Linked DNA regions of Homo sapiens. The protein of the gene in region 7 purifies or fractionates together with the protein of the main gene of each other region. This does not show direct contact. Each region holds a gene or a part of one and is shown on either strand. Other genes may lie near its edges.

Region 1 (3,500 bases), on a different chromosome or scaffold from region 7:
CACTGTGTTACCATTAACAGAAAGGTTAAAATTCCAATGATGTCAAATTTTCCTACGTCAAATGGACCCAACCACAGGAATCAAAGATATTTTTCTTTTTTGTATTCTTATTCCCTCACACTGAAGTTTCTATTAGGTATTACACTATTATCTGATTATAAAATAGTTTACACTGTAACCATCAAAGATTTGGGGAAAAAAGCACTAAAATAACTAAAGCAGAATACCCTGTTCCTACCACTGTGTACAAACTTATCTGCTAGGCCAGCATTTAAAATTTTACAAACTATCCAGCAAGAATGCTAATAGAAAAGTGACAAACCTGAAAATATGGCTTCTTTCAAATATAGTAACATGTGGGAGAACTTCCTGATATCATTCACCAACTCCTTGATGTAATCCGGATCAAAAATAGAGTTGGAACTTAAGGACTTGAGCCCCATTTCAGAAGTTGTAATATCAGTAGAGAGTTGACCTGATGCCCAAGCACGTTTTTTCTTTGTCTTTTTCTGTTTGTGAGCAATCATCCTTTCATGTAACAGTCAGAAAAACTGAAATCCTTAAGGGGGCAAGAAACAAAACAAAAACAAGCGAGGAGAGAGAAAGAAACACAAAAACTAAATCAGCCAGGGAAATATTACACTAGATTTTCACAAACAGCCCACAGCTCACCTTGGTATCCTATTTTTAAATTTTTAAAAATCAAAAATCAATAATCAATCACTGTATTATTGATAATAGCAGTTTCCATTTATTAAATACCAGTAATTCCGACAACTCTGACATGCAAACTACTGTTCTTTACATTTCACAAATGAGGAACCTGAGGTTTAGAGGTTAAAAATTTGCCTTAAGCTCTCAACTGATAATGAACTAGGACTTAAACCTGTATCTGCCTTGATGCCAAAATCCATGCTCTTAATAACTTCCTCTTGATTCCTAGGGTATAGAATTTTATTTAATTGTAAAAGTTGTTCTGAAACATCACTTAGTAGAAGGTCATATTCTCCTTCCATGACATCACCTTCAAAAATAAAGATGAGATATGGGCTTTGAAAAAAGAAATACCTGTTCTTAAAATCCTCCTCTGTCACTTATTGTATGATCTATTCATCTCTTTACTTCAGTATGCTCATTTATAAAATGGGAGTAACATCCTGACAACACCTATCTCATGAGATTGTAGGGATTACATGACGCGATGATACAGAAGTGTCGAGAACATAGAAGTTCAATTACAGTTAGTTTTTCCTAATAATGCATATACATACATATACACAGACACACACACACAACACATCCTGGATTACCAAGTCTCATCAAGGATATTTCTTTGTTGAAAATAAGTTACAAGGGTGCCCACTAATCTGACATACTCTGACTGGTTAAATAAACACGTGTGATCATCAGAGCAATATTTTTGATAATCTCAGGATGGTAGTAAAAAGGTAATCTTTTGGTATGAGAAGAATTTAGATTTGAATCCTGGCTCTAGTATTTTCTAGATATGTGACCAGTACAATTTATTTACAGGCTTGTGTGAGGATGAAAAGGGATCACAAAATTAGAAGACTTCATATGTTAAAACACCTAATACTGGCACATAGCTGGAACTCAAGAAAATCATAGTTATTTTCTTCTTCACCCTCATTTTACCTTTCCAGAGTTAAAAGTTCTAATCTTGTTTGTATCTCTGGAAATCAAAAAGGAAATAACCGGAGGAATTAAATTAACTCACACTTTATTATTAACACTTTTTTTCAAGTATTTTGTCTTGAATATTTGGCTACTTTAAAAATGGTAGATGACTAAGGACTTCTATAAAATTTACAGTAGAAAGTTTTTTGGTTTTTTTTTTTTTTGGAGGGGGGAAGGGTTGAGTCTGGGTCTCACGCTATCACCCAGGTTGGAGTGCAGTGGTGTGATTATAGCTCACTGCAGCCTCAAACTCCTGGGCTCGGGCCATCTGCCCGCCAAAGCCACCCATGTAGCTGGGACTCCAGGGGCACAACACCACACCTAGCTAGCTAAAAAAAAAATTTTTTTTTTGTAGAGATACAGTTTCACTATGTTGCCCAGGTTGGTCTCAAACTCCTGGGCTCAAGTGATCCTCCTACCTCAGCCTAGCTAAATGCTGGGATTACAAGCATGAGCCACCATGCCTGGCCCACTAGGAAGTTTTATGTAATATCCGTTTCTAGTCATATGTAAGATACATTATTGTATCATTTACTCCTTCCTATATCTCACCCAACTCCATAGTTCATTTTTCTTTCTGATCTACAGGGTTCTCTAATCAACCCACTTCTCTCTACTGCTACCACACTAGTGAATTACCATCATTTCTTTTCTGAGCTACTATACTACTTTCCTAATGATCTATCTGCATCCATTCTTGTCTCATCACAAATGTAGTGAGTGAACATTTCAAACATAAATCTCATAATGTCATTTCTCTACTGAAAACCCTTCCAAAGTATAAGTGAGAAGCTATCATGCTCTACAAGGCTCAACATGAGATCTGGCTCCTACCTACCTGTGCAATGTCATATGGAGACACACCTGCTGGCTCTCAACACTCCTGCCACACACACCTCCTTCTCATTCTTCCAACAGTATTTGTTTACGATGACTCTCACCAGGAAATAATTTTACATAATAATACATGTTAAGTGTATTATGTTTGTGTGTGGCATGCTTCTGGGTAAGGCTCCATGGGATGTATGTGAGTTTTTAAAAATTCCATCCCATTTCATTTTTAAAAATGCTGGGTGCAACTCACCAACTTGGTTTCATACACATAATAGGTCATGACCCTACAGTTTGAAAAACACCAACTGTTCAGCTCAGGGTCCTGTCTATATGTAATTCTATTTGCCTGGAATATTCCTTCTCCTTTGTTTACTCACTCTGATCTCAGCTCAAAGCTTACCTCCTCAAAGAAACGTTCCTGGACCATCCCCATCCCCCAGCAAAACCACTACCATCAAACCAGAGTAGAATCTCCTGTGAGATGTTCCATAGTATCCTCTACTTTTCATCACTGCTCATACCACAGTTCAAATAGATCATGTCTTCCTAGCTAGAGTATAATCTCATGGAAATCAAGACCATGTATGTCTATTTGCTAACCATGTGTTCTCTGATCATAGCACAATGCTTGGCGTATGAGGAATGAACTACTTAGAACTATCTGCAGATAGGCTTATAAACTTATAAAGTTTCAATTAATTTTTATAGAAACAAAAATAACTCTGGGTTGTTGCAATGTTTTGAAGTGAAAATATAAATTTTTAAAAAACTCTCTAAAATGGTATGTTTCAAAAAGAAAAGTATATGAAGCTGAGGGAAGATTACATAAAACTGAAATCAAAGTTGGATTTCTATTATTGCTCCTCCTGATTATTAAACTGGGGACCACACTTTATAATTTTTAAAGTTTGTTTATTCACTGTCCTTTTGTCAATCTCAAATTATTTCTGAGAATCTAACTTCTACAT
Region 2 (3,500 bases), on a different chromosome or scaffold from region 7:
TATTGAAAAGCAATCAGGGAAAAGTGTCTAAAGATGCACACAGTTATGGGATCATTCTGTATAGACTGCTGCGTCTATCATTATGATTTCTTAATATCCATTAGCCACTGTTGTGTCTACCACAAACCTCAAACAGGTTATCAACTTTCTTTTCATTCAACTGCCATGAAGAAGAGGTGGATGAATTTTAAATTTGCTGACGTCATGAACTTAGATCTCAAAGAGAGAACACTAGGAAATTTCTGTAGTTCACTTTCAATGATCAATGGTAATACATGTTCAGATAATAACTTTAAAATACTGTTATATCCCTGGTTCTTAGAAGACAATGCCACTAACCCATTTTAGAAAGATTTGTCACAGCAGCGATTCTAATTTAAAAGAGGCTTCTTGGTAAATTAAAGATTTAATTGCAAATCTGTTGGATGCTTACTTATAATCTATTACTTGGTACTTAATTTTTGAGCTGGTGACAACCAGAGATTTACATTTTATATATATAAAGCTTCACAATATTTACATGCATTTTTTCCCTCTCACCTTTATTACTTTCTGTAATGATGCCTTTGTTGTCAATGAAAAGCAATAAAAGAAAGAATCAAATTTGTGACACTCATTCACTGTTTGCAGAAATTGTTACAATCTGTTTAAAATATGTTTTAGGTTGACAAATTTGATTTGGTTGATCAATATATTATGTATTAATAAGTATTAATAAGCTATTTATATGAATTAATACCCCAGTATTAATATATAGCCTATGCATTAATATAATTAATAATCAATATGAATTAATTCAGGTAAATCATTAGTTATTCAATACACCATATATTACATATAATATACCTTAATAATAATATTGATTGTTATTATATATTAATATGTACATAAGATATTAATCAACCAAGCCAATTGTCAATCTAAGATGTAATTTAAACAGATAACAAGAATCTTCAAGCACTTTTTATCATCACAATGAAAAGGATGCTCTCATATAAATTTTAAGTTTCTGTGAAAAAATAATTTCTATATACCATTTTATTAATACATATAGTATACTTAGAAAAGTAGTAGGAGTAGGAAAATGCAATTTTTTAATACTTAGAAAAAGAACAGGTATTGTATGAAGCTATTTAGATAATATCTACTCTTCTTTTTCACTTACCAATTTTGCCTCCTATGTCAAGAAATGCAGATGTTAATGTCAATCAGGAATTGTTGGTCACTGAGCAGTATGCATTTATTCCTTCGCTAATTCAGTCAGTTTTAATTAATAACAGCTACATGCTAGGTACTGTGCTACATTTAGGGCATACCTGGGTGAATAAAGCAGGTATAGTTCATTCCGTCTTAGTGGAGACAGATAATAAGTATACAAACAAACAGATAATAAATTATAAAAGAAAGCAAATGGGCTTCAATGATAGAGAATAACATGCAAAGGCGGAGAATGGGAAGGGCTCTCTGAGGCATAGAATTGAAGCACAGATGTGACGGATAAAAAGCCATCTACGGGAGGCGGTAAGTAGAGTGAGAATGGCAAGGCTCACGCTAGAGTTCCAGGCAGAGAGTGGCATTCGTTAATGAGCCTGCAAAGAAGCAACTAAGAAACTAGATGGAAAACCAGGTATTAGGGTGATGTTGTGGGAGCAAAGGAGGGAAAGTGGTTCTAGAGGAAAGAGGTTGAATAAGATGACGACGGAAAAGTGATTACTACATTTGGAAATTTGGAGATCATGAATGATCTTGATTAGTGCAGGTTCAATGGAGTGGTGGGAGTAGACAGAAGAAGGAAGAAGGAATTTACAAATGGGATGGGAGGAATGCGTGATGAGGATAGCTGGCTCCTGGATACAGGGTAAGCAAATAACCCTTCAGAGAAGTCTGTCAGTGAAACACAGCAACCAAATGGAGACATAGCAGGGAAAAGGAATATGGAGTCGACAGACAGACTGTAACAAGTTTGCCAATTAGATTATCCAGTTGAAAGTAAAATTTGGGCCAGGCTCAGTGGCTCACTCCTGTAATCACAGCACTTTGGGAGGCCGAGGCAGGCGGATCACGAGGTCAGGAGATCAAGACCATCCTGGCTCACACGGTGAAACCCCATCTGTACTAAAAAAAAAAAAATACAAAAAATTAGCCGGGCGTGGTGGCGGGCGCCTGTAGTCCCAGCTACTTGGAAGGCTGAGGCAGGAGAATGGCGTGAACCCAGGAGGCGGAGCTTGCAGTGAGCCGAGATCGCGCCACTGCACTCCAGCCTGGGCGACAGAGAGAGACTCCGTCTCAAAAAAAAAAAAAAAAGAAAAAGAAAAGAAAAAAAGAAAATAAAGGAAAGTAAAATTTGATGATTCAGGAAAGAGAGACGTGACCATCAAAAATAAAGTCCTTGAGGAGAGGGATTTTGCATCCAGAGAGCCATGGTGGTGCCAGGTCTGTAACAGTAGGAGGAACATTGCCTCCTTTGTGGCAGGGAGAAGGGGAACCCAAGTGCACCTGCAGGGAAATACGCAGATTTGATGGTGGGAAGATGAGAAACTTCCCTCTGGTGCTTTCTGCTTTCTCAGTGAAGGAAGATGAGGTCGCCTGCTAAGAGTGGGAGTTGGGGTGGGGTGAGAAACTTGAGTGAGAGAAGGGAATAAAGTGACTTTTTCCGGTGGGAATACAAGTCCACCAAAGAAATTTAGAAAGATGTCTTGTAGTGTAGAGAACCTCTGTGGGTTTTGAGAATATGGACTTAAATTAAAACTAGCCTTCCAGGGTATGTTGTTTTTCTGCAACATGTTTAAATGCTAAGAGCAAAGAAGCTAGATGGTTTCTCTAGAGTGGGAGTTTTTAAAGACAGAAAGAAAAATTGTTTTTAAAGACAGAAAGAAAAATCCATAAAATGGATAACCAGTGCACTAAGCAAAACAAAATAAAAAACAACCCAAACCAAAACCAAATCTAAACAAAAATTCATAAAAATGAATGAGTCTGTAGAACAGAGTTCCTTTATCTAAGGTAATTAGTGACTACTAGGAAGTAGTCCAAAATTGGCTGATTTCCAGCTCTAGTAGGTGGGAATTTAGCCTTTGTTCTTTCCCAACTCTTGGATTCATTACCTAGCCAGTTGCTAGGCCTCTTTGTACACTTCAGTGAAGCCCAGTTACCTGTTCCAGGAGCCATCATTCTGGAACCTTTTTTTTCTTCATGTTCTAGTTGGTAGACTTGTTGCTGTTGTCCTTTGAAGTTCTGAATGATTAACTGTTTGCCTCCCTGCTTTTATTGGACTCCTAGCTAAGTACTTGTTTCTGAGTTGTAGCATACTCCTTGGTCTTTGTGCTCCCTAAGATAAGGGTTTATAGACTTCGAATCATTAGAATTCCACAATGTAAAGATGTGTAAAACATTTTGTGATAATAATAGACCATCCAAAAAAAGGATCTTTCACAGCCCTGCTCTCAGGATGTATTTCTTCACCCTGACATAAATCTTTCATTTTGCATCTAAAAGTCACT
Region 3 (3,500 bases), on a different chromosome or scaffold from region 7:
CCCAAAAAACTCTAGATCCACAGCTACCACCCTAGTCCAAATGACATCTTTTTGGACCACTGTAATAATTTCCTAACTGGTTTCCTCATACCCACTTTCACCTATCTGCTGTCCACACAATAACCAAAGCCACCCATTTCCCTGCTTAAAACCTTTAAATGGCTTCCCAATCCAATTAGAATACAAGGCACTGGCTCTTCAACCATATCTGCTGTCATTTTATCCAATACTTACTACTATTCTCCAACTACAGGCTTTCTATCAGTTCCTATATTACTCATGATCTTTATACCCTCTATGTATGTCAAAAAGGACCATGTAAGAGATGTATCGCTCCTCTTCACAAACAATTCCATCAATACTACTGGATATACAAGCTTTTTTGCCTTGCTAATTAAGGGTCATTTTTTTTCCCACTAATCCACATACTTATGTAAGGATGTCACTTTTCTATTCTTTAGTGGGACAAAGAAGAAACAAAAAACCAGAAGAAAGAACATATGGATTTGGAATTTTAATTGGAACAGAACTTTGAAACACCCTTAGGATCACTTTGATAATAATTACTCTCAAGGACCAGTAATAAGATTGATTAGGAAACAGACCTATACCAAATCATCACTATATATGTCACTGCCCTTCTTTTAAAAGTACATTAAGAAAACAAAATTGAGTTTTCTTTTATAGATCACTTTCTACACAGACGTGCACAGATGCGTATACCAATATACGCACAGAAAAATAAAAGAACATTCTTATCTTTTGGCTAGTTTAGAGATGACTGATTTAGATGAGATTCTGGACTTCAAGTAGTATTACTCTATTACAGCATGGCACTGAGTGGAGGGGGTGGCACTGAGGGAGATGTGAATTGAGTTTTGTATGTGGGAAGAATACAAATTACTGTGGCAAATAGGTATCACTGTGGCAGATTTTGTCTTTTCCAAAGATGGCTGACATACACATTCAATGCTACATACTCTTCTTACAATAGGACAGGGACACTCAGCCCATCTGGTGCTGTGGGTTGTTTCCTCTCCTTCTGAACCTGGATGAACCTCTGTGATTGCCTCAACCAAGAGAGCGCAGCAGAAGTGATGCTACATGATTTTAGAAGTTAGGTCATAAAAATGCCATGCACTTGCACCTTGCTCTCATAGGAAGCTCACTCCTGGAACTCAGGTGCAATATTTTGAGGAAGCAGGCCACATGAAGAGGCCAGATGTAGGTGTTCTGCTTGATAACCGCAGCTGAGGTCCCAGCTGACAGCCAACATGAAGCACCAAACATGAGAGAAAACCCTTGAGATTATTTGAGACCCAGCCACTGTCTGACTACAACCTCATGAGACTCTAAGAGAAACTTCATAATTGATCCTAGTCAACAATCTAAACTGTATGAGATAAAAATGAAATGACTGTGGTTGTTTTAAGCCACTAAGTCTTGGTATGTCATTACGTAATAGTAGATAATAGTAGATAGTACATAATAGTAGATCAGTGGTACAATGTCTAACCAAACACCAAGTTCCATCAATTCTGACCCCTAAATGACTCAAATTCATCAGGCTACTCTTTACTGCCACCAGTCTATAAAATCACCTAAAATACTTTATATTATTGTTTGCTTAAATGTATCTTCTCTGAAGAGAACATCTTTATCCCTAAAATCTAGCAAAATGCTTGGTATATAGTAGTCCCTTGAAAGACGACATTAAGTAGTAAAACTTAAGGATGAATTACTAAAATTTCACAGTAAAAATAGCAGTTAGTGATTTAATTACAAAATTAAATATATTTGTTAGACTGAAATAACTTATTCTACTTACATTGCATAAGGCACCATAGCGAAGAATAGACAGCAAAGAATGTACATGACTTTCACTGGTAAAATATAATCTAGTACGAACATGACGTTCAGGAGACAGAACACCTCTAGAATACCTAAAATTAGAAGCAGACAGTGTTCAAACATAACCATATAATCAAAAACTCACTAAATATTGAAATTATTTTCTAAAATTAAATGTAATTTCACTAGAAGTAAAAGACCACAAAAATCTATTATTCTTCCAACCACAATAGAGAATTTATCTTAGTATATATTCTTCTAACATGACACAAACTATAACTAACTAGGACCTCTGAGAGTAGTCAAAGAATAGACTTAATATTAGTCAAGTACACTGTAAATAGGTTATTTTATCTCCTTTAGTAGCAATGACAGAGGTTATAGACCTAAAGATGCTCACAGACATTAATGCTGCTAAATGGGGTACACATTGATGGTCCATGTGAACGATGACCTATATTCCCTTTTCCCCACTCACCTTAGTTTTCTCTAAAGTGGAGCCAAAAATAACTTTGGTTGGAACTTAATAGAAATACCTAGGTAATACTATTTTCACAGTATGCCAATGACACACTTCTGACTTCATAGGACCATCAAAGTATAATTTAAATTTGAAGTATGCAAAAATAGATGCCTAGAGATTTAAATAACCAGTACAGTTTCTTACACAGGATGAAGTTTATTTACAGTGTCATCATCTTGTGTCCTCTGAAGGTCTGAGCGAATTTTTCTAACCAGAGGAGTACAGTAGCCTTTGGCAATCTCCAGTTTTTCAGCTTTAGTTATACCATATTCCTGAGCAAAAAATACATGACATTAGAAAAAGGATATAATGACAAAGTACTCTAAAAAAATACACTCCTAAATTAGTCTAGTGAGAGACAAATATTTTATCAAGCCTTTTTTGAACGTTGGATAACTCCGAGTTTGCATTTTTTGCAACTGCAAATGTATGATTTTCAAACTATTAAGTATAATTGGAAGGATTTTGTGGTGGAACTGAACAAAAGCCAGTAATTTCTGAAGGCGGAGAATGAATGGGTGAATGTAATTTTTATGACTAGTATTCACTAAATCAGTGGTTTTAAATGTAAAAACAACCCTAAAAGAAAGGTGGATTAAGGCCACAAACACTAAAGCACAATATGTAATAAATATATGAAAAAAATTAAACCTTGAGATTTCTGTTTTTCCAAATGTCAAAGATTTAAAAGACTAACACATTCTTCAAAAGGCTTTGGCCAATATTTTTAAAGTTTTAACTGGAAGTGAGCAAAGATTCCATGAAATTATCAAATTTAATGACATAATCATTATGAGTTAATTGGATTTGTAAGGAATTAGCACAATGTGAAGTGTCCAGAAAACATGGCAATTTTAAGAGTAATTGCAATGAAAATTATAGTTCAAAGCAGTAGAAGAGGAGAAAGGAAGAAGGCAGAAAAGTGGGGGTAGAGTGGGAAAGAGGGAGAAAAGGGAAGAGGAAAGAAACACATATACCTTCTCTCTCCAAGTTCATTCTAGGATATTTCAACTTAAAGGCTATTTCCTGCTACTAGATACCTCCAGAAAGATTCACATGGAATAACATCAGTACAGACAATAGATCTCAAAACTGCCTAATAAAGAAAATGCTGACTGATTACAGA
Region 4 (3,500 bases), on a different chromosome or scaffold from region 7:
GCCCAAGACTGTCCTTGGGCAGTCACATTTATATTTTAACCAAGGAACTGAGTCGTGTATTTCGAAAGCACCAACGGTCACCTTATTTTCACTAAGAAAACACAAACTGGGGCAAAGGGTAAGCCCCAGACCTGTTCTCTTTTTAGAGACATGAGGTCTTTTTAGAGAACAGCTGGGGGTAAATGCAGGGGAGAGGAGAAATGGGTTCAACTAAAGATGGAGTGAAAACAAAAAGAATGAACAGCCTCAATTTCTAGCCCAGAGGTTTCAAAAATAAGGATGAATTTGCAAACAGCCCCAACTTCTTAGAGCTTTTCTCTGTATTCCTGGCACCACCCTTTCAGGGCTATTTTTAGCTACAGGAGAATGGGGAGCAGACAGGGAAGGGTCTCCGTGTGGCCCAGCCTTACCTTGTGTGCCCTGCTGGGACTCCAGCTATCTTTAATTAATGTCTGAAGGACATCAGGCCAACTCTACTAGTGGTAAAAGGAAGCACAATGGTGAAATTCTACCCAGCAAGACTGACAGGCCCACTACTGGTATACCATTCCTGAGGTCCTGGGGCTTTTATTGAAAAAAGGCTCCATCTGGAACATTTAGAGAGCGATGAAGTAGAGTCTGTATATTTAAGAGTACAGAAAACAGGACTGCCTATTTACTTATCTAGTCCTGCCTCCCTGCTTCACACAGCCCAAATCGACAAATCAATTTAACACTATTTTACACCTTTTCTCTAGAAGAAAGACATTTCACTTAAAGGAACTCCCTCTAGCCATTTTTATTTAGTCCAAATTCCTAAACAAGGATGAAACCAGTATTTCTCATAATCTTTTACAGTCTTCCTTTTAGCAATAGTCGCAAGAGGTAAACCTAAATCTTTTAAACCTCAACTTGCTGCCACCTAGATTTAGCTTTATTAAATATTAGAGATTGATCATATCTTTGGAAACAAAACTGAATATGCCAAGAAACTAATAATAAAATATATTCCTCAGTACTACCCAAACTCCTCAACATCAACACTATAAAGGTATACTGCAGACAGGCATGATAAGGAGGGAGAAGATAAAATGCTATCACTTAAGAAAAAAAAAATCAAGACCACAGGGGTTACATGTCAGTGACAAACATCTGCACACTGCCTAGTCAGGGATTGATGAGCTACCTATGAACAAAGAACTTAAAGGACTCCTATTAGGTCAAAGCAAAACACAAATAAAATTCCAATAGATTCTGAATTCCCATCTAATGTACCGCAGACTACAGCAAACTACCGTCTTTCTTCGCTCAACTCCATTAACCTAAATAGTTAGACTCCATCCGTTGATGAAAAAAAATCAAAATTCCAGAATTCTCTTTTGGCTGAAGGAAGTATATCGCTTTCTTCACTTCTGCAGAAAGTATGTACACTAAAACCATTATTAGTTTAAAGAATGGGTTCAGTATTTAGTATAGTCAGGAAAATTTCAGCCCACCAACATTTAAGAGTATTTGAGTTTTCCACCCTCATTTTGCAGCTGGGTTCTCACCAGGATGGCCTCAGACATCCATCCCGTAACCAATGTGTTTTCTGAATGGGACATAAAGGCACACTGCAAGAGATGCTCACGCTACTGAAATGTCACTCAGGTTGAGTGCTTGGGAAATTCAGCAAAGAAGAATCTAGCAGGACTTGCTTCCCCCTTCCCAGTTTTTATTAATTAAGCCTATATGGGAAGGAGGAGGTGCAATGAGATGACCAAGTAAAAATAAAGCTATCAGGAAACTATATTAAAATATAATAATTTGCTGGAGAAACTTACGATGGGGTTGATAGTTAAACTGCAGCCAGCAGTTTAACACAGCACTGTCCAATAGAACTTTCAGCACTGATGGAAAAGTTCTATCATTTCTGTTGACCAATATTCAGTTCCTTAGTCACATTAGCCATATTTCAAGTGTGTAACAGTTGGGGTTGGGGAGGTGACGGAATTGAGATGCTCTTTACAACCACAAGTCCTGAATACGCTCAGAAAGCTTTTATCCTGGCTTATGATGTTTGTCTCATCTATACTCCTAAAAATGGCCTACACTAGCATCCTTGATAAACACTGGTTATAGGCAAATGCTTTTAGCCTTATGTATCGCACACTGTCACTTTAAATGGTAGTATTTTCTAAAGATGTGTCATCCAGGGACACAGGTTCACTGTACATTACACACCAAGGTTACAGCAGAAACAAACTATACTGAATATCAACTGCTGTTCTTTCCAAAGTTCCTAGAGATTATGTTTAGTGCTCTTGAATCTGTTAAGCCACATAAAATGATACTGGTTTTAATGAAGGAAGTTTTTCAAATCCCAAGTGACTAGAGACAAATCCAGTTCTATAATTTAAAAAAGATAAACTAGGCCGGGCATGGTGGTTCACGCTTGTAATCCCAGCACTTCGGGAGGCTGAGCTGGAAGGATTGCTTGAGCCCAAGAGTTAGAGACAAGCCTGGGCAACATAGCAAGACACCTGTCTCTACAAAATAAATAAAGAAGTAAATAAGCTATATATTTTTTGTTTTGGACACAGGGTCTTGCTCTGTCACCCAAGCTGGAGGGCAATGGTTCAATTATGCCTCACTGCAACCTCAAATTAACTCCTAGCCTCAAGCAATCCTCCAGCCTCAGCCTCCCTAGTAGCTAGGACTATAGGTATGAGCCACCATGCCACGCTAACTTCTTTATTTTTTGTAGACAAGGGAGTCTCCCTATGTTGCCCAGGCTGGTCTCGAACTCCTGGCCTTAAGGCAATCCTCCTGCCTCGACCTCCCAAAATGCTGGGATTACAGGCGTGACCCTGGCCATAACCAGATGGTTTAATAGACTAAGTAGACCATTGCTGTAAACTCAAAATAGATATTAGAACACACACCATACCTTTTCTAATATATAATTTCAAAAGCAGGCCATTTGACAAAGCCTGAGTGCATGGTGTGATTGACAGTGAATGAACTGATGCCAACCTAAAGTAGACAGACACCAGCGGCCCAGCACACATGTCCAAGTGTCTGTACTTGGTTCCATCCTTTCAACTGTTCACCAGTAATTTGCACAAACTCACAGAAATGTGTAAAAGGGCAGCCAGCATAGGTCCAGAATGATGTAACACAATGGAATTTAAATGCTAAATCCCTCCATTAAAGGCTCACAAAGGCAGTTCCACCAACACCAGTCAAAAAAGTCAAAGATTCATAACAATTTATGTTTTAAAAAAAGGCATAGGTAATGTAAATACAGGTTTAATACAGGCCAACAGCAATATGATTGCACAAAAAACGAATTCAATATTAGACTGCATTTACAAATCGCAAATTGCCAAGAAAGTTACTACTGTCTACTAAAATTAGTACTGATGTCCAGGGTACTCCCTTTCAGCGGCAGCAACAAGACTGAAAACGTTTGATCATTCTCCCAGCAAGCCCCTTCCCCCATAGGAGTCAGAAGACCAGTCACGCATTTGGAAGGGGAA
Region 5 (2,582 bases), on a different chromosome or scaffold from region 7:
GGGAGGCCAAAGTGGGCAGATCACCTGAGGTCAGGAGTTCGAGACCAGCTTGGCCAACATGGTGAAACCCTGTCTCTACTAAAAATACAAAAATTAGCCAGGGCTGGTAGCACGCACCTGTAATCCCAGCTACTCAGGAGGCTGAGGCAGAAGAATCACTTGAACCTGGGAGGCGGAGGTTGCAGTGAGCCACGTTCGCACCATTGCACTCCAGCCTGGGCAACAGAGTGAGACTCTGTCTCTTAGAAAAAAAAAAAAAAGGGAAACAAGGCACAGGTAGTCTTCTCCAAAGAAACGCCAGGATTCTCCAAGGCATTCTGAGTAAAACTCCAAGGGTGAGAACACCTGAATTTACTGTTTAGGTCTGAACGGCTACTTGATGCTGAGTTGCCAGGTAGCTGAGCAAGCTGCAGGAGGTGGGCAGAATGGCACTGGGCCTCAGTCGTGACCATGAGCCAGTCTGATAACTGCCATACATTCAAGGTAGTACATTCAGGCTGTATTTCGGACCTCTGGATCCGTGCAATGATATGTACATATCTACTTTTCTCCTTGTGATAAAATCACACATACTGCTAATGGCACTGTGGTTCCTTGATGACATTCATAACAGAAGGAATGCTGAATTTCAATTAGAGGTTAGTAATAAAGATGCATATTTTTCCCCTGCCTGAGTCCACAGACTCACTGAATGCTATCCACAGATCCCTCTGGGTCTATGGACCCCAGGATAAAACTGCTGTGTTAAACGTTAACTGGACAAAATCCTCTGACTCCACTGAAATTTATATATACAATAATCTGGGATCTTGAATTGCAAAGCACTCAAGTTAAAAAGAAATTTACATTCAAGATGTTATTTGCTTATCTAACAGCCAGGTTTGGTAGTTAATTGTTTCCACCTCATACCTGAGGAAAGTGAGAGTGAGAGGCCTCTCATCACCAAAGGTCACCAAGTCAGAGAGGAGCACAGATGGGGCTTGGTCACAGCTCTGACAACAAGGCCTGACATTGGCTCCTACACGCAAGTGGCCAGGCTGCTGTCTCACCAGGTCTCAGAGTAAACGTGATTGCAGGTCGATTCCTGAAACCTCTGGCTGGTGACTAAGGCAAGCCTGCTCCTCAGCTGGACAGCTGCCCTGGATGAGCTCTCCTTGCCCTGTGGATTCACTTGCATCCCTATCTCCTCCTGAGCTTCTCCACACTGCTAAGGCAGGAGTTTGAGGGCATTGGAAGGGAAAACCTTCTGACCTAGACTTTGGCTCCTGAAATGATACTACAACAGTAGACTCCCCCTTGCCCTAGGCCCACCTCCACCCCCACTCTTCTCCTCCGGCTTTTCCCTCTCCTATTTTTCCCTCCCTTACCCATTCCCCAAAATAACAATGAATTCCCCCTCCCACCTTCTCCTCACCAGGTTAAAACTTACCTCATTAGCAGCATCCCTCTACAAGGTGCATTTAACTATAAGTATACTGCCTGCCTATGTGACGACAATCCAAAAACCTTCTACTGGGACTTTTACACCAACAGTAAGTACAGAAGTTGTCCAAGGAGGGAACTACCCACCAGCCACCAGGGAGGAGAAACTATAAACAGAAACATGGCTGCGAACCGAGCAGGACCAGGACCTCAGGGCAGAAGGACAGAAGGGAGGGAGGGAAGAGCATGGGGAGAGCAGATGGGGAAAGCACCCAGGTTCTAAGACAGAGGCATTGAGTGCAAAAAGTTGATACAGGAGACAAATTTGCAAAGGATTTGGGGAAACTGAACCCCAGGGGGCAGATGCCTGATATGAGTAGAAAAGACAGGACATGGCCGGGGTGTCTGAGAGATGATCTCCGTCCCTGTCTTTTTCAGGAACTGTGCAAATTGCAGCCGTCGTTGATGTTATTCGGGAATTAGGCATCTGCCCTGATGATGCTGCTGTAATCCCCATCAAAAACAACCGGTTTTATACTATTGAAATCCTAAAGGTAGAATAATGGAAGCCCTGTCTGTTTGCCACACCCAGGTGATTTCCTCTAAAGAAACTTGGCTGGAATTTCTGCTGTGGTCTATAAAATAAACTTCTTAACATGCTTCTCCATGTTCTGTTGTATCTCCAAAATCTGCTCCTGAAGAACCCCAGATTACCTGAAATTTCTAGAACATTTGTCTTTCAAAGAACCTTTACTGAGGAGATTGTACGGGTTCTCACTGCCCATTGGTATGAAGAGGGAGAGAAGAAGAAACTGGGAAGAGGAGCTATGCTCACAGAGAGGAAAAGCAGTGGCCCTAAAGTTCACGGCACAGGAGTGGCAGAGCCAGGGCAGGCACCAAGCCTCCCTGTTGCTTGACCTCTCTCCATCCCACTGCCCTCCAGCAACAGCTCAGATCCCAGAAGACAGGAGTCCTGTTGCATGCAGCAGAGTCAGGGATGGAGTCCATGGCCCCCTAAATGAGCAGTAGCATTCTATGCTATTCTGTTGCTTGTTTTCAATGGATTGTGACACTCAGGGATATCAGGGTCCTGTGCAGCTCTGCCTGAGGAGCTCAGGCATAATAGAGGAGTAAAGGGGCAGAGGGAGCCCTGAGGGGCT
Region 6 (3,500 bases), on a different chromosome or scaffold from region 7:
AGAGCCTCTTAGAACCATCTTTCGATATCTGGAAGACTGAAGTGTAGCCCCAGGTCCTGTTTAGAACAAGGTTGACATTACTAAGCTCCCAGGGCGAAGGCCTTGCTCAGGATGGAGCGACAGCTCAGGAAGGACACCTCTCGCTGAGGGAGACCCTTCGAGGCCAGAGATGGCCAAGTCAGTCTGGTGGGCGATAAATGATAAGATTCAGAATAAACAAATGCACACCCAGGGGTTAACCCTGGAGGTTGGGGCACAGGGACTGGGGCTGGCTCATTTGCTGCTGGGGGAGGTGGAGAGACTGGGGAGTGGGCCACCAAAGCGTACAACACAGCCCACTCTCCCTAGTGGCAACCTCCCGCATGGCAACCTCCCGCATGGCAAGCCCACAACTCAGAAGTAACTGAGGATGTGTGTCACAGTGGCGCTGATAACAACGACAAGCCAGACACAAATTAAATGTCCAGCCTCAGGGGACAGCTGAGTAAGCGGCAGTGAAATGTACCGTGCAGATGCTGAAGACAGCAGCAGTGCATGTAAAAGCGTGCATGCTGGCCAAGGAGAGATGTGCAACCCAGGTGAGGTAAGAACGCAGGTCCCAGCACTGCGGATGGCATTTTCTTTTTTTTTGAAACAGGGTCTCACTCTGTCAGCCAGGCTGGGGTTCATGCAGTGGCACGATCATGGCTCACTGCAGCCTGATATTCTGAGCCTCAGCTTCCTGAGTGGCTGGGAATACAGGTGTGAACCACCACATCTGGCTAAGTTTTTTTAAACATTTTTTAGAGATGGGATCTTGCTATGTTGCCCAGGCTGGTCTTGAACCCCTGGCCTCAAGTGATCCTCCTGCCTCAACTTCCTAAAGTGCTGGGATCAGAGGTGTGAGCCACTGTGCCCAGCCCAGCATGATTTCTTTTTTTTTTTTTTTTGAGACGGAGTCTCACTCTGTCGCCCAGGCTGGAGTGCAGCCGCACGATCTCCGCTTCCGGGTTCACGCCATTCTCCTGCCTCAGTCTCCTGAGTAGCTGGGACTACAGGCGCCCGCCACCATGCCCGGCTAATTTTTTTGTATTTTTTTTTAGTAGAGACAGGGTTTCACCGTGTTAGCCAGGATGGTCTTGATCTCCTGACCTCCCGATCTGCCCACCTCGGCCTCCCAAAGTGCTGGGATGACAGGCGTGAGCCACCGCGCCCGGCCCAGCATGATTTTTAAAAAATAAAAGTATGAACACACAACACATTACACTGAAGAAGTTTATATGGACATAAAACAAATGCTAAAAGGCTGGAGAGGGGTAACTTTTGATGCTGACCTGTTTTCTGTGGCAAACACCCCTATTCGCATGACACTGAAAACTCTAGAAAGAGAGCAGAAGGCCCGCCTCCCGGCTGATGGGCTGCCTCAGGCTCCAAGTGTGCTGTGACGCGGGGGGCCCTGGCCACACCTCCCGGCTGCTGCCCTGAGCGGGCCCCCACTTCCTGGGATGGCCATGTCTGAGGAGTAGGGGTTACGGGCAGGGGCGATGGCACAGGAGGACCCGGAGGCTTGCTCCGGCGTGGGTCACAGTGAGGCCGCAGGGACCCAAATGACCACGGAGTGAGAAACCAAAAGGAGACTCTCGGTGACCAGCAGCCGCCTAACGAACGGCACCCTAAGCACCCTCAGCTGCGTGTCTCAAGGGGCAGAGCACGGGACAAACAGACTCTTCCACTGCCTTCTGTTTTCTAAAACTGATCTGATTTTTAAAAAACTAGCGACTTCGGCCAGGCGCCGTGGCTCACGCCTGCGATCCCAGCACTTTGGGAGGCCGAGGCAGGCGGATCACGAGGTCAAGAGATGGAGACCATCCTGGCCAACATGGTGAAACCCCGTCTCTACTAAAAATACAAAAATTAGCTGGACGCGGTGGTGCACACCTAGTTCTAGCTACTCGGGAGCCTGAGGCAGGAGAATGGCGTGAACCCGGGAGGCGGAGGTTGCAGTGAGCCGAGATCGCGCCACGGCACTCCAGCCTGGCGACAGAGCCAGACCGTGTCTCAAAAAACAAAACAAAAGAACGAGCGAGTGCTCTAGGGGATGAGTCAGGACGCGCGCTCGCCCTGCTCTAGGCCCCTCTAGGAGCCGCCCTGACAGTCAGTTTCCTCAGCGTCTACAGACGTGTCCACGGTGCCGCTCATGCCTCGCGGGCGGGGTCAAGGGGGTGGAGGCACTTGGCGCTGCTCCCACCCGCACGCCCTGAGCTCAGGCCCAGCACCCCCGCCTGCTCGTGAACTGGTACTGCGCCAGCTCTTGGGTAACGGTGGCAATATGCATCTGAGCACGTTTACACCTTTTTTTGATCAACTCGACCTACACGATAAATTCCCAGAAGTAGAACTGCTGGGCCTAAGAGTGGGTGTCCTTTTTGCTATCATTTTTTACTGAGCTGTAACTTACAAAGCACAAAATACAAAGATCCGAGGTTTGAACATTTTGATGAATTTTGACAAACACATGCCCCTTCCACCCATGTGGCTGAAGCTCCCAAGGTACAGCCAGCGAGAGTGAAGCCCTCCTCCTGCATCCCTGCACCCAGGCTCTGCCCAGGAGCAACTGACATGTAAAATGGGAGCTACTGCCAAGCCGCGCCCACTCACATCCACCCGCCCACCTGTGTGCCGACAAGCCAGCAGCACGTGTGCCTCCCGTACCACGCTCCACATAAACCCCCTCTCAGGGAAACAAATCCACACCTTTGTCCTGAAGCAGACATGGCACTTGGCCACAGCCTTCCTGGCACTAAGCCCGCTGACCCCAAATTCTCAGCTAAACAGGATGGCACATCCCGTCAGCCACACTGCAGTTACAAGGAGCCTACCCCACCCTCCACACACCAAGGGACCTGCACCTGGGTGACCCACTCATCCCACCAGCGGGTTGTGGCACCCGCTTCTGAGAGGGGCCGTCTCAGATCACAGCAACAGAATATGCAAACACGACCATGAAGTCTAGGGAGCCCGGCCTTCGGCGGCACGTGAAGGGCCTCGCGGGAAGAGCCGCGGGACTGCTGCTGTGTGACAGGTGACGGCAGCGGGGAGTGGCCGGTGGCCTTTGCTGGTGCCATCTGCAAGACCCAGGCCGCGGGGACCTTCCAGGCCTCTCCACTCTCTAACGGAGGGAGGCAGAGTGACAAATCCCGGCTGGGACAGACAGTCCTTGCTAGTCTGTGTCTCATCAGGGGCGGCGGGAGAAACCCTGCTGCAAACCTGGGCTCTGCACCTCGGCTGGATGCACCCGCACCTCACCGCTGCTCACCAGGCAGGAGAGACACAGGACAGGGCTGGGCTCCCGGGGTGGCCCAAATGCTCAGTCACGGCGGTCAGAGGCCCGCCTGGAGACTCAGGTGCTTCTCCCGGGGCAAGGAAGCACCTGGCACCCTCAACCCAGGACCAACATGTGCACCTGGGTCTGTAACCTGCTCCTCGCATGTGGAAAATGACAGCTCAGAATTTCCAGAGTT
Region 7 (3,500 bases):
TTTTTGACAAAGGTGCCAAGAACATACACTGGGAAAAGACAAGTCTCTTTAATAAATGGTGCTGGGAAACTGGATAAACACATGCAAAATCATGAAACCAGACCCCTATCTCTTGCCATATACAAAATTCAAATCAAAATGCATTAAATACTTCAAACTGAATCTAATACAAGAAAACACTGGGGAAAATCTCCAGGACATTAGTCTGAGCAAATATTTCTTGAGCAATAGCCCACAAGCACAGGCAACCAAAGCAAACATGGACAAATGGGATCACATCAAGTTAAAAAGCTTCTGCACAGCAAAGGAAGTAATCAACAAAGTGAAGAGACAACCCACAGAACGAGAGAAAACATTTGCAAACTACCCCTCTGACAGGGGACTAATAACCAGAATATAAGGAGCTCAAACAACTCTACAGGAAAAAACCTAATAATCTGATAAAAAATGGGCAAAAGATCTGAATAGACATTCCTCAAAAGAAGACACACAAATGGTGAAAAGGTTCTCAACATCACTAATCATCAGATATCCAAAACTCAATGAGATATCATCTTGTCCCAGTTAAAATGCCTTTTATCCAAAAGTCAGGCAGTAACAAATGCTGGTGAGGATGTAAAGAAAAGGGAACCCTTGTTCACCATTGGTGGGAATGTACAACCACTACGGAGAACAGTTTGGAGGTCCCCCAAAAAACTAAAAATAGAGCTACCATATGATCGAGCAATTCCACTGCTGGGTATATATCCAAAATAAAGGAAATCAGTGTATCGAAGAGATCTGCACTCCTATGTTTGTTGCAGCACTGTTTACAATAGCTAACATTTGGAGGCAACCTAAGTGTCCATCAACAGATGAATGGATAATGAAAATGTGGTACATACACACAATGGAGTACTCGTCAGCCATAAAAAAACAGACCCAGTCATTTGCAACAACAGGGATAGAATTGGAGATCATTATGTTAACCGAAATAAGGCAGGCACAGAAAAACAAACATCACATGTTCTCACTTACTTGTGGGATCTGAACATCAAATCAACTGAATTCATGGACATAACAGAAGGATGGTTACCAGAGGCTGGGAAGGGTAATGGGGGGTTGAGTGGGAGGTGGGGATGGTTAATGGGTACAAAAAAATAGAATAAGACCTACTATTTGATAGCACAATAGGGTGACTATAGTCAATAATAACTTAATTGTATATTTTAAAATAACTTAAATAATGTAATTGGAATGTTTGTAACTCAAAGGATAAATGCTTGAGGGGATGAATACCTAATTCTTCATGATATGATTATTTCACATTACATGCCTGTACCAAAACATCCCATGTACCCCATAAATATAGACACCTATTATGTACCCACAAATTTTTTTTAAAACCCACTAAAATAAGAAGAAAAATCTATTAGGTGTGTTACTAAGAAACGTGCTGTTTAGTGGTCTACAATATTCAAAACCTCAGGGTGTGACTAAAGAAACTCATCTAAAATTATACAATGACTATTTAATGGTAGAGAAATAAATCTGAACTTATATCCATTCTAAAAATGAATAAAAACAACTTCAAAAAACTTAAGAGAAACCTGAGTTTCAAAAAGTCCAACGTTATTCTCCAAATACTTATTTAAATAAATTTACTTTGGAAAAACACGACTGTCACACTGACATAAAGCTTAAAAATATTTTATTACCTATTAAAAGTCAGTGCATTTAACACCCATTGCCTTTTAAAACCCCATATGATTCCTTATCAGACAAAATCAGATGATATTTACCATCTTAAATTCAAATAATGGCCAAAAAGTTAACAAATCTTGACTTTAAGGCAACACTCTCAACTACTAAGAAAGGGTCACGAGAGAAAAGGCCTAAAAGCAATCATAAAAGTTGTTGTCAAAAACCTTTGTATCACTGAAGACAATTGTCAAAGAGTTACTCTCAAGAAAGGCCTACTGATGAGTGAGCTGATGCTCTCAATGACTCTGAATTTTTTTTTAATTTAGGATAAATTGATTAAATATAACATAAAAGTAATGTCAGCTACAATAAACTTTGTAATGATGGAGAAATTAGCCCTGGTAAATGGAATTATAGTTCAAACTTTCTAATCAAGGTAGTATTTGTCAGTACTATTAAAATAAAACCAAAATAACAAGAAAACCTTAGGAGTTAAATGGAAAACATGTTTTCCACCTTTTCATGCGTCTATACCCCTTGAGCTATTTTCTAAGAAACGCATACTCTTCAGTATACCCTGGGTAAAGTAGCCAGACACTTCATTTAAAACAAATAAATCATGGCCCGGCACAGTGCCTCACGCCTGTAATCCCAGCACTTTGGGAGGCCAAGGCGGGCCGATCACCTGAGATCAGGAGTTTGAGACCAGCCTGGCCAACATGGTGAATGAAACCCTGTCTCTACTAAAAACACAAAAATTAATCGGGCGTGGTGGCAGGTGCCTGTAATCCCAGCTACTTGGGAGGTTGAGGCAGGAGAATCGCTTGAACCCGGGAGGCAGAGGTTGCAGTGAGCGGAGATCATGCCACTACACTCCAGCCTGGGCAACAGAGCCAGACTCTGTCTCTAAATAAATACATACATACATACATACATAAATCCTGAATTAGGTGCATGTTTCCAACTAAATATAAACTTGAAGGCAATTCACTTAGAAAAAATTTTAAAAAATATATAATGATAGCATTCTGTTCATTACCCAATGTTAAAATTAACAACAGTTTTAGCCAATGATTCAAATCTATTCAGATAATTCATTATTTTAAAAATAAGGTAAAACTTTTTTGTATCTACCTAACATTAAGTGGTCACAGCAGTATTATATTAAAAAAAAAAGGAGGAAAGATGAGAGTTAAAAATGAGCTTGCAATGGGTGCTTTCTTAAAACCACAATCATTTCTAGGTCATCTGTTTTGGTGTTGCCACAGCGACTTTGTGAATCATATGACTTTTCACCCCCTCCATAACTCAGGGGTACATTTGTTTCTGGTAAAAATATATACATTAGTGGATGTAATTTTGTTAGAGTACGTAATGTACTTTCAGCCACAACTTAGTAAACTAAATACTGGCCACTGAAAAAACATAACAGAGAGAGAAAATTATCCATATATCCACCTTTCTAAAACTGTCCATCATGTCAGCACTGAATATACTACTGTATCGTTAAGTCTGAAAACTTTTCCAACAATGACTTTACTGAAAACCTAATCTGACAAAAATTAATCAAGCACCATTGTAAAACACTCACCATGATTATTTACAAAAAGCAAATCTGATCTTATATTTAGATATACACTTACAAGAATCCTCATTTGAAATGCACAGTTAAGTATTTAATGGTGAAGTATCATGATTTCTGCAACTTACTACATATATATGTAAAAGTTGTATATTAATAAATACAGAAAGCAAATGTGGCAAAATGTTATCAATGCCAAAAGTAAGTGAAAGGTATATGGGTAGTCAGCATGTTT

What was found.
Region 1: the proteins of ANKRD28 (region 7) and ARHGAP29 fractionate together in Homo sapiens (co-fractionation; one large-scale study listed by BioGRID). This does not show direct contact.
Region 2: the proteins of ANKRD28 (region 7) and PLA2G4A fractionate together in Homo sapiens (co-fractionation; one large-scale study listed by BioGRID). This does not show direct contact.
Region 3: the proteins of ANKRD28 (region 7) and PPIP5K2 purify together in Homo sapiens (affinity purification with mass spectrometry; one large-scale study listed by BioGRID and IntAct). This does not show direct contact.
Region 4: the proteins of ANKRD28 (region 7) and SNX18 purify together in Homo sapiens (affinity purification with mass spectrometry; one large-scale study listed by BioGRID and IntAct). This does not show direct contact.
Region 5: the proteins of ANKRD28 (region 7) and PIP purify together in Homo sapiens (co-immunoprecipitation; one large-scale study listed by IntAct). This does not show direct contact.
Region 6: the proteins of ANKRD28 (region 7) and RAB40C purify together in Homo sapiens (affinity purification with western blotting; one study listed by BioGRID). This does not show direct contact.

Annotation. Positions count from the first base shown.
Region 1 is NC_000001.11:94,231,085-94,234,584, forward strand, and holds part of ARHGAP29 (rho GTPase-activating protein 29), read right to left. Parts: intron 560-3,500; 5' UTR 528-559; coding exon 323-527; intron 1-322. UniProt on the Homo sapiens protein: GTPase activator for the Rho-type GTPases by converting them to an inactive GDP-bound state. Has strong activity toward RHOA, and weaker activity toward RAC1 and CDC42. May act as a specific effector of RAP2A to regulate Rho.
Region 2 is NC_000001.11:186,835,449-186,838,948, forward strand, and holds part of PLA2G4A (cytosolic phospholipase A2), read left to right. Parts: intron 1-3,500. UniProt on the Homo sapiens protein: Has primarily calcium-dependent phospholipase and lysophospholipase activities, with a major role in membrane lipid remodeling and biosynthesis of lipid mediators of the inflammatory response.
Region 3 is NC_000005.10:103,172,301-103,175,800, reverse strand, and holds part of PPIP5K2 (inositol hexakisphosphate and diphosphoinositol-pentakisphosphate kinase 2), read right to left. Parts: intron 2,647-3,500; coding exon 2,519-2,646; intron 1,944-2,518; coding exon 1,829-1,943; intron 1-1,828. UniProt on the Homo sapiens protein: Bifunctional inositol kinase that acts in concert with the IP6K kinases IP6K1, IP6K2 and IP6K3 to synthesize the diphosphate group-containing inositol pyrophosphates diphosphoinositol pentakisphosphate, PP-InsP5, and bis-diphosphoinositol tetrakisphosphate, (PP)2-InsP4.
Region 4 is NC_000005.10:54,520,759-54,524,258, reverse strand, and holds part of SNX18 (sorting nexin-18), read right to left. Parts: exon of another isoform or gene 3,213-3,500; intron 1-3,212.
Region 5 is NC_000007.14:143,137,658-143,140,239, forward strand, and holds the end of PIP (prolactin-inducible protein precursor), read left to right. Parts: intron 1-1,417; coding exon 1,418-1,532; intron 1,533-1,860; coding exon 1,861-1,985; 3' UTR 1,986-2,082; downstream 2,083-2,582.
Region 6 is NC_000016.10:621,066-624,565, reverse strand, and holds part of RAB40C (ras-related protein Rab-40C), read right to left. Parts: intron 1-3,500. UniProt on the Homo sapiens protein: RAB40C small GTPase acts as substrate-recognition component of the ECS(RAB40C) E3 ubiquitin ligase complex which mediates the ubiquitination and subsequent proteasomal degradation of target proteins.
Region 7 is NC_000003.12:15,791,480-15,794,979, forward strand, and holds part of ANKRD28 (serine/threonine-protein phosphatase 6 regulatory ankyrin repeat subunit A), read right to left. Parts: intron 1-3,500. UniProt on the Homo sapiens protein: Regulatory subunit of protein phosphatase 6 (PP6) that may be involved in the recognition of phosphoprotein substrates. Involved in the PP6-mediated dephosphorylation of NFKBIE opposing its degradation in response to TNF-alpha.